Linked DNA regions of Homo sapiens: region 2 is linked to region 1. Evidence: fine-mapped expression QTL. A gene starts in region 1. The other region holds a variant in brackets. All regions are shown on one strand. Distances are from middle to middle.

What was found. PIP is the estimated chance that this variant, and not a neighbour inherited with it, causes the effect.
Region 2: its variant is the best candidate, but not a certain one, in a credible set for the expression of TMCC2-AS1 in testis (GTEx, PIP 0.67).

Annotation. Positions count from the first base shown.
Region 1 is chr1:205,234,937-205,239,330 of GRCh38, reverse strand. TMCC2-AS1 (TMCC2 antisense RNA 1) reads left to right here and starts at 2,040. Exons shown (of 3, transcript NR_183258.1): 1 at 2,040-2,147; 2 at 2,373-2,826. The region is part of intron 1 of TMCC2 (transmembrane and coiled-coil domain family 2); the gene reads right to left.
Region 2 is chr1:205,213,961-205,218,354 of GRCh38, reverse strand. No RefSeq gene overlaps it. Among named protein-coding and RNA genes, the nearest start is that of DSTYK, 4.5 kb to the right of the region's middle. RefSeq lists a cis regulatory region at 4,195 and an enhancer at 4,123-4,267. The variant G/A (reference allele first, on the strand shown) is at 1,900.

The DNA of each region.
Region 1 (4,394 bases):
CACCTCCCCCTTCCCCAGGCCCAAGCTGATGTGAGACCTCCCTCCAGACACTGTGATGGGGCCAGCTGGCTCTGGCATTTGCCCAGCTGCCTCTGCCAAATCGTCACATTCCATAATACGAATTGTCTTTCTAGCGTTCTATTCCAGGTCCCTTCCTCTTCTCCCCCCATTCCTAAACTGGCTTCTCCAACACTGAGGATCCACTCAGGCAGAAAGAGTTTCCCTTCTAAAGACTTCAGCAGAGGTCCTAGAGTTCTGAGGCATTTCCTCTCCCCTATCCCCGGGAGGCTGGTGGAGGTGCTGGGGAGAGCTACGGTGGCCACCGATGTCTGCCATATTGCCTTGGAGCCTAAAATCCTTGGTCAATTTACTTTTAAAATTTATACAACAGCATTTTGCAAAGTGCGTTCCGATTTATACTGTCATTATAATCTGACACTAGCCTAATCTCAGGAGCTAGGAATGTGAGATGTCACAGCATCAGTGTCTATTTTGCAGATGAAGAAACGGAGGCACAGCATAGCTAAGTGGCTCATCCAAGCCACACAGAGAAACCCCCGACTTCTAATTGAATTTACCTTCATGGGCCCATACACTGATTTCAAGACTTAAGATTTAAAGTAGATAGGGTATTTGCATGTGTCCCAGAATAGTATCAGAGGCAGGCGCCAAACAAAAATGCCTGGGTCAAGGGTTGTTAGGTCCCCTGAACTGCTGTTGTGACCTGCCCATCCCATGTTATGGGACAAGACCCTCAACTATAAAGTCTTTACTTCCCACCTCCCTGAGCTGTCCTGCAGCTGAAGGAAACCTAGGGAAAGTGACCAGGAGACCCCAGGACCTTTGTCCCAGCAGACCGAGGAATCTATTAAAGTCTGAGGCAGGCAGGAGGGAAATAACAAAAAGGAAGTCAAAGAACAAGGTGCAGAGAGAGGAGATTACTCCAAATGAAGGGGTTTTTCCTCACTGATAAGGTGCGAGGCGGGAACAGCAAAGTGACGCAAGGGCTGGGCCGCTTCTGCATGTGGGTGTCAGGGAGGAGATGGTTAAGGAGTTTTGACATAACACAGTAAGTGTTTTAAAAAAAAAAAACTCAGCACATACACATAACCAGCTACAAGTTTCAGAAGTGAGGAAAACCATGGTGACTAGCTTAAGGGAACTTAGCCGCCAACGCAGCAGAAAGCACCACCTGCTCTGACTAACAGGTTCCAGCTCCTAAAATGTCACTTGCTTTTCCACATTGACTTTTGCTTTTCCCTGGCTGCCAGAAACCATTTTGGTGGCCAAATGAAGCCATGCATTAGAGAGCTGAGATGCTTCAGAGTTAGAGGTGGCAAACAAACAGGGCTTTCATGATCTGTAAGACCGAAGCAAGAAGTGCCGTCCCCAGAACTGGCCATAAGGTAGTCAGAAAGGAGAGCCTCCCAGGGTGAGGTGCCCCGGGGAAGGAAGTGAGGGGAGTTGGCTGTCCCTCCCCTGGAACTATCTGAAAGGGCAGGAAGAGCCCCATCTCCTTGGGTGGCACTGTCCTTTCAGGAAAAAAGGGAGGACTAGATGGCTTCTGAAAGATCCTTCCTGAGAAGGCTGTGGTTTCTGAACAGTTGGGCTTCATCCGTCTTTCTCCCTGGGTGTGGGTCCCCCAAAGGGGAAGTTTGCTCCAAAATCTGCAAACACAGCTGCATGAATACAAAACTAAAATGCCTTGGGGTACAGTGTCATTGGCACCATCTGGTTAAAAATGACCAAAAGTGGTTTCTAATTTTTACAGGTACGTGTGTTCTCAACAAATCCCAGGAAAGCTTAAAGTCACACTAATCTATAGCTAATTATCCCACCTGGCAGCTGACTGCATAGCCCTTCCTCCTACCTGGGTTTGAAACTCCTTCCGCCCTACCAACAGTTTGGCTGTGAGGGTTCAGTGGGGTGACTGGGTCACCCTGAGCCTTTGCCAGCCTAGGTCGCCAACATTCCTCTATTTATAGGGTCTCTATGGAAACAGGGCCAGCATTAGAGAACTAATCACTGTAAAAACCCACAGAGTTCTACTCTTAGGATCCAAAGTGGATTGAAGAAGTCTCCAATTGCCCTTAAGAAGCTCTGGGTGGGGAGCCTGAGTGGGAGCAGGAGAGGAACCATTACCCCAGGTTTGGCGCTGATGATCACAGTGGTGTACAGTAGGCAGCTGCAACTGTTCAGGCCCACTTGGAGTTTCTACTGGAAACCCAGTGATGAAAGATTTTTGGAATCATTTATTTATTCCCCAGCCTCACAGATGAAATTTTAAAAAAAAAACTCAACTCATGGGCACACGGGCAAAAAATTCCCCCATTCTCAATTTTATTTTGATTCCTCTTTCCTTTATTGCTTAGAGAATTCAGCCTGGAGCCAAAGCAAGTGGGAAAAGGTCACCTCATCCACCATGTCTTTAGGCAGAACTGATTCAGCACACACCAACATAGAAGACTTTTATTAAAGTTCCCAGCATGGCGTGCCCTCTCTCTGCCTCTTTGCATCCTACCCATCCTTCACCACCTCGCCACTCCATAAAGCCCTCTCTGATCACACCAGTCTGCAGCGATCTCGCCCTGCTCTGAACACATAAGCGCTCATTATCTGCACCACTCATTTTGCAATTAATCGTGTACTGCCTTGTGACATCGCTTCTAGTGCTTTGTCTGACTGTTATCCAACTTCTCACCTGCTGACGGATGGAACCCTTGATGACAATATGAGTGACTGGACAGCAGGAGCTACAGCTCCTACATCTCTGTGTCCCTAACATTACCTGGCAGAGGCCTCAACACCAACATGGAAGACAGCTAGGTAAATTATTTGTTCATTTATTTTCTGAGCAGCCACTATCCAAGTCTCTACAAATCCATCTTACAAAGGTGATTTTAATCCTTAGATGACTACCTTTTCCAAAGACATAACCTTTCACAAAGATTTCAAATGCTCCAACAGCCTTTTCTTGTGTCTAACTCAGATTTCTCCTGCTGCAGTTTAAACCCTCTTCTCACTCTATTATCTTAGTAACCGCCAAGATTGAGTTGGCTTGGAAGGAGATGAACACAGACCAAGGAGCCAGAATGTATGTGATGTCTTCACAAATGGCTTAGGGAGGGCTTGGGAGGGGGCTCATGTCCTTACAGCCAGATTTGTTTTCCCTGGTGGACATCACTCAGTTAACCTGGCTGGAATAAGGAAGCCTTTAGTCATTTGGTTTAAAAATAACTGTTCTTTTTTTTTTTTTTTTTTTGAGACAGAGTCCTGCTGTGTCGCCTAGGCTGGAGTGTAATGGCGTGATCTCCGTTCACTGCAACCTTTGCCTGCCGGGTTCAAGCAAATCTCCTGCCTCAGCCTCCCGAGCAGCTAGGACTATACGGGCACACCACCATGCCTGGCTAATTTTTTGTATTTTTAGTAGAGACGGGGTTTCACCATGCTGGCCAGGCTGGTCTCGAACTCCTGACCTCGTGACCCCCCTGCCTCGGCCTCCCAAAGTGCTGGGATTACAGGCGTGAGCCACCGCGCCCAGCCAAATAACTGTTTTTCTAGCACAGTCACAAAACATACCTGTTATCCCCCAACAGCTTTGTTCTAACTTCTTACACGAAGAGAGACTTAAGTGTTTGGCTGACAAAGGTGGACCCTGTCCAGCTATGGCCTCATTCCAAAAATGTAGCATGCTAGTAGTCTATGGGGATTTCAAAGGCAGATGCCATTTCTTAAGGGAGAGATGAAAACAGAAATGAGTTCTGAGTTGGCCTTTAAGACCACCACTGAGAAGCTGCCTGAGCCCTTTTCCCCAGCTCCTGATAACCCCACACTTTGAAAACTTCAGCCCAAAATTTAGGTCCTATCAGATATTTCAACTCCTTGCTGAAGGAGATTCTTGTTAATGGGATTGGCAGTGAAGACATAATTAGATACACAAAAAGAAGCACATTCTGTAAATACTGAGCCTGCCAGACAGTTCCCACTAGAACAACTAGGGCAGCTGGGAATTAATCTAGAACTCAATATGTGGCAGGAGAACAGGGAGTTTCGTTTGCCACATGCTTTCCCATCGGTCACCAGTTCCCCCAGAGCCCACATAGAGGGCTGCTCTGAATATTACCTAGGCTGGAGGGGGTGGGGGGGAGGCAATCCTGGGCCTTCCAACCCTCTGCCTGCTTCATATAAGGTGCAAGCGGGACAAAACAGTTAACTTCAGCATTTGCACTACCCTCCATTGTTCCTGATCATTCTAGTCAAACAGGGCAAAGACCCTACAAAAGCACTTGCTACCTCACTTCCCCCATTTAGAAAGCCCCTCTTCTCTTGTTTGGTAATAAATGTCCCACCCCTTCTTTAAAATCTTGCTCTAGGCCGTGCGCAGTGGCTCACGC
Region 2 (4,394 bases), 21 kb after region 1:
AAGAATATAACCAATTATAAGGTGTTATTCCAGGTAGGTAGGGAAATAAACCAAATATGGGTTCCACTGAACTGTCAGATAACATAGTGGAGAAAGGATCACAGCCATTTAGACTTAGAAAAGCAATAATGGGGATGGGCCCGGTGGCTCATGCCTGTAATCCCAGCACTTTGGGAGGCTGAGGCGGGTGGATCACCCGAGGTCAGGAGTTCGAGACCAGCCTGACCAACATGGAGAAACCCTGTCTCTACTAAAAATACAAAAGTAGCTGAGCATGGTGGTGCATTCCTGTAATCCCAGCTACTCGGGAGGCTGAGGCAGGAGAATCACTTGAACCTGGGCGGAGGTTGCAGTGAGCCGAGATTGCACCATTGCACTCCAGCCTGGGTAACAAGAGCGAAATTCCATCTCAAAACAAACAAACAAAAAATTAGCCAGGTGTGGTGGTGGGTGCTTGTAATCCCAGCTACTTGGGAGGCTGAGGCAGGAGAATCCCTTCAACCCAGGAAGCGGAGGTTGTAGTGAGCCAAGATTGCGCCATTGCACTCCAGCCTGGGTGACAAGAGCGAAATTCCGTCTCAAAAAAGAAAAGAAAAAGAAAAGCAATGCCGATCTACTGTCTTACTGATGAAAAATGAATTGTGACAAAACTATGTTCAGGGCTTCTGGAAAGCTTTGGATCAGTTACTCTAAAACATTTCTGGAAAACCTTGTTCTTCTACTTGGCAGTGAAACAAAGATGATCTCTGTTTAGAGTTATACCAAATTCCCTTTGATTGTTTCCCTCCAATGCTCTACATCCTAACAGCCAGGCATGGCACTGATGAAATATTCAGCATTGGAATGATATTTGATGTATAATTAAATAGCATTTAGCAGTTCAATTTTATAGAGCTTTAATCTTCAAGTTAATAAACCTTCATGTAGAGAATCTCATAAAATATTCTTGGAAATGCTATCCTCCTTGTAAAAATACATAATCCTGAATGTGAATAGTTACTACAGACAGAAAACATTTCCTAAGCATGTCTGTGTGCAAAGTAAGGTGCTAACTGCTTTAAACATTATGTCATTTAATCTTCACAACCCTGTGAGTTGGGTATTAGTTCTCCTCTACAGATGAAGTGAATGAGGCTCTAAGTAATTTGCTTACGATCATGAAATAAGTAAGCAGCACGGCCAGGACTGGAAATTCGGGTTAGATTCTCTCTGATTCCCTTGCTTTTCCCTACATTTTTACAGGATTTCTTTTTTTTTTTTTTTTTTTTTTTGAGACATGGTCTCACTCTCTTGCCCAGGCTGCAGTGCAGCAGCATGATCATGGCTCACTGCAGCCTCAACCTCCCCAGGCTCAGGTGATCCTCCCACCTCAGCCTTCCAAGTGGCTGGGACTACAGGCGTGTGCCACCACACCTGGCTAATTTTTAAGTTTTTTGTAGAGATGGAGTTTCACCATGTTGCCCAGGTTGGTCTCCAACTCCTGGGGTCAAGCAATCCTCCTGCCTTGGGCTCCCAAAGTGCTGGGATTTACAGGCCTGAGTTACTACACCTGGCCAATTTCCATTTCAAAGCACTTTCACTTACCTCCAGCCTGGGAGGTAGAGGTTGCTGTGAGCCGAGATCATGCCATTCCACTCCAGCCTAGGTGACAGAGGGCAAGACTCTGCTTCAAAAATAAATAAATAAATAAAATAAATAGAATAAAATAAGATAGGCTGGGCGCAGTGGCTCATGCTTGTAATCCCTGCACTTTGGGAGGCCGAGGTGGGTGGATCACCTGAGGTCAGGAGTTTGAGACCAGCCTGGCCAACATGATGAAACCCCATCTCTAGTAAAAATACAAAAAATTAGCTGGGCTTGGTGGCGTGTGTCTGTAATCCCAGCTACTCAGGAGGCTGA[G/A]GCAGGAGAATTGCTTGAACCCAGGAGGCGGAGGTTGCAGTGAGCTGAGATCATGCCACTGCACTCCAGCCTGGGCAACAAGAGCAAAACTCCGTCTCAAAAAAAAAAATTAATAATAATAATAAAATAAATGCAGAATCCCAAGCACCACCCTAGATTTACTAAATCAGAAGTGCATTTTAACAAGATCTCCACATGATTCATGAGCACACTGAAGTTTCAGAAGCACTGTTCTGCAACACTGCCAGCATTATACACTATAGGCAGGGAAGAGGGCAAGATTGTCTAGAACCAGGGATTCTCAAACATGTTCCCTTGGGAATCAGTATTGAGATTCAAGAAAGTATGTTTGGTTGTTAAATTCGATAATGGTGACTTTTCCCAATTCATAGAAAAAAATTGGGTTAATGGGTTGTATTTTTCATCTTTTCTTCCATAATTTGTCCTCTCTTTTGGAGCTAAATATTACCTACCTGCTGGTAACTTTAGAAGATGATAATGAGCAAACAAGTAGTAAAGAAATACTTATATTTATCAATATAATTTTTCAATATAATATAATAAAACTCAATAATATGTAATTCTTTATTTTTCCTTCAATTTGTAGATTTTTAAAATTCTTGGATTTGTGATTCTGATTTTATGTTGCATAACAGAAAATAGTCATACTTTCTCTTAGTAAACTGTTCTTAATTCATATGGAAGAATTAAGTGTTAATGTTTTATGGTGTTCTAAAAAAATGATTTCCACCTACATGAACAGGAAGATCAAGGCTTCAGAATCTCTCCAGAAATCATCAAACCAAGAGGAACTTGTATAGAAAAGTAAAGTTAGAAAGAATATTTCTCACCTATCTCGTTTCCTCCAATGACAACATTAATGGATACCAATATAACCTACTGTTTTTTTCTGGGTAGTAAAAGTATGAGTGGTTTTTACTTTCTCTTTTGTGATTTCCTGAATGTTAAAAAATGTTGGCTGGGCATGATAGCTCACGCCTGTAATCCCAGTATTTTGGGAAGCCAAGGCAGGTGTGTATCACTTGAGTCCAGGAGTTCGAGATCAGTCTGGACAACATGGCAAACCCCAAAACCCTGCCTCTACTTAATCAATCAATCAATCTACAGTGAACACTCAGTCACTCAACAAATATCTAACGAGTACCTACTAAGTGACAGGCACTATTCTAGGTGCTGGAGATACAGCAGTGAAACAAACAGCCAGACAAAAATCTCAGTTCTGATGTCAGTAACTTGGGTCTTTCTTCTTGGGCTGCTCATATTCCTTCATGATGACACTTTAAGTTTTATCTTTGGAGGGTAAACAGCTGGTAGCCAAAGATCTAGGAATTGAATGAAGAGGGTATCCAATATCCATACATTCACTTATCTCCCTGTTTATGCAGAGAGCTATTTAACCCTCTCTGGAGAATAAATACTTCAGTCTTGTTTTTCGGAGGGTGGGGTGGAAGTTGAAGATGAGGAAGTGACCTCAGGATTTAACTGCTCTTAAGCAACTATACTTCCACAATAGGCAGTGGGGGGACCTACTGTCACCAGTTTCTAAGACTTAGGGGATTCTTCAATATAAGGTTGGATCTCAACTTTATTACTTTGGGTTTAGGATTCAGGTTTCTTAGTTAAAACTTGCCCATTTGCTTTTCATCTTCCACTTTCTTTTTTGCTACCAACTCCTCTCATTATCCTGGCTTTGTGCTTTAAAAAATCCCATTACTGTCATTTTAATGGTGTTCTAGGAGGGAACAAAAGTAGATCTGTGTGTTCATCTTCATTAATTGTTTAACTCTCGACACTTTCAGGAAATACTTTTCTTTCTTTTTGAGACAGAGTCTGACTCTGTTGCCCAGGTTGGAGTGCAGTGTCATGATCTCGGCTCACTGCAACCTCCACCTCCTGGGTTCAAGCAATTCTGCTGCCTCAGCCTCCCTAGTAGCTAGGACTACGGGTGCATGCCACCACATCCAGCTAATTTTTGTATTTTTAGTAGAGACAGGGTTTTGCCCTGTTGGCCAGGCTCGTCTCAGACTCCTGACCTCAGATGATCCACCCGCCTCAGCCTCCCAAAGTGCTGGGATTACAGGCATGAGCCACTGCACGTGGCCAGGAAATACTTTTCTTTTGTTTGGTTTTTGTTTTTTTGAGACAGAGTCTCACTCTGTCGCCAGGCTGGAGTAGAGTGGTGCAATCTCAGCTCACTGCAACCTCCGCCTCCCAAGCCTGAGCGATTCTCCTGCCTCAGCCTCCTGAGTAGCTGGGACAACAGGCATGCGTCACTACGTCCAGCTAATTTTTGTATTTTTAGTAGAGACGGGATTTCATTATGTTGGCCAGGATGGTCTCGAACTCTTGACCTCATGATCCACCCACCTTGGCCTCCCAAAGTGCTGGGTTTACAGGTGTGAGCCACTGTGCCCAGCCAGGAAATACTTTTCTATACCAACTTAAACCCTCTCTTCTTACCGTTCAAAACTTTA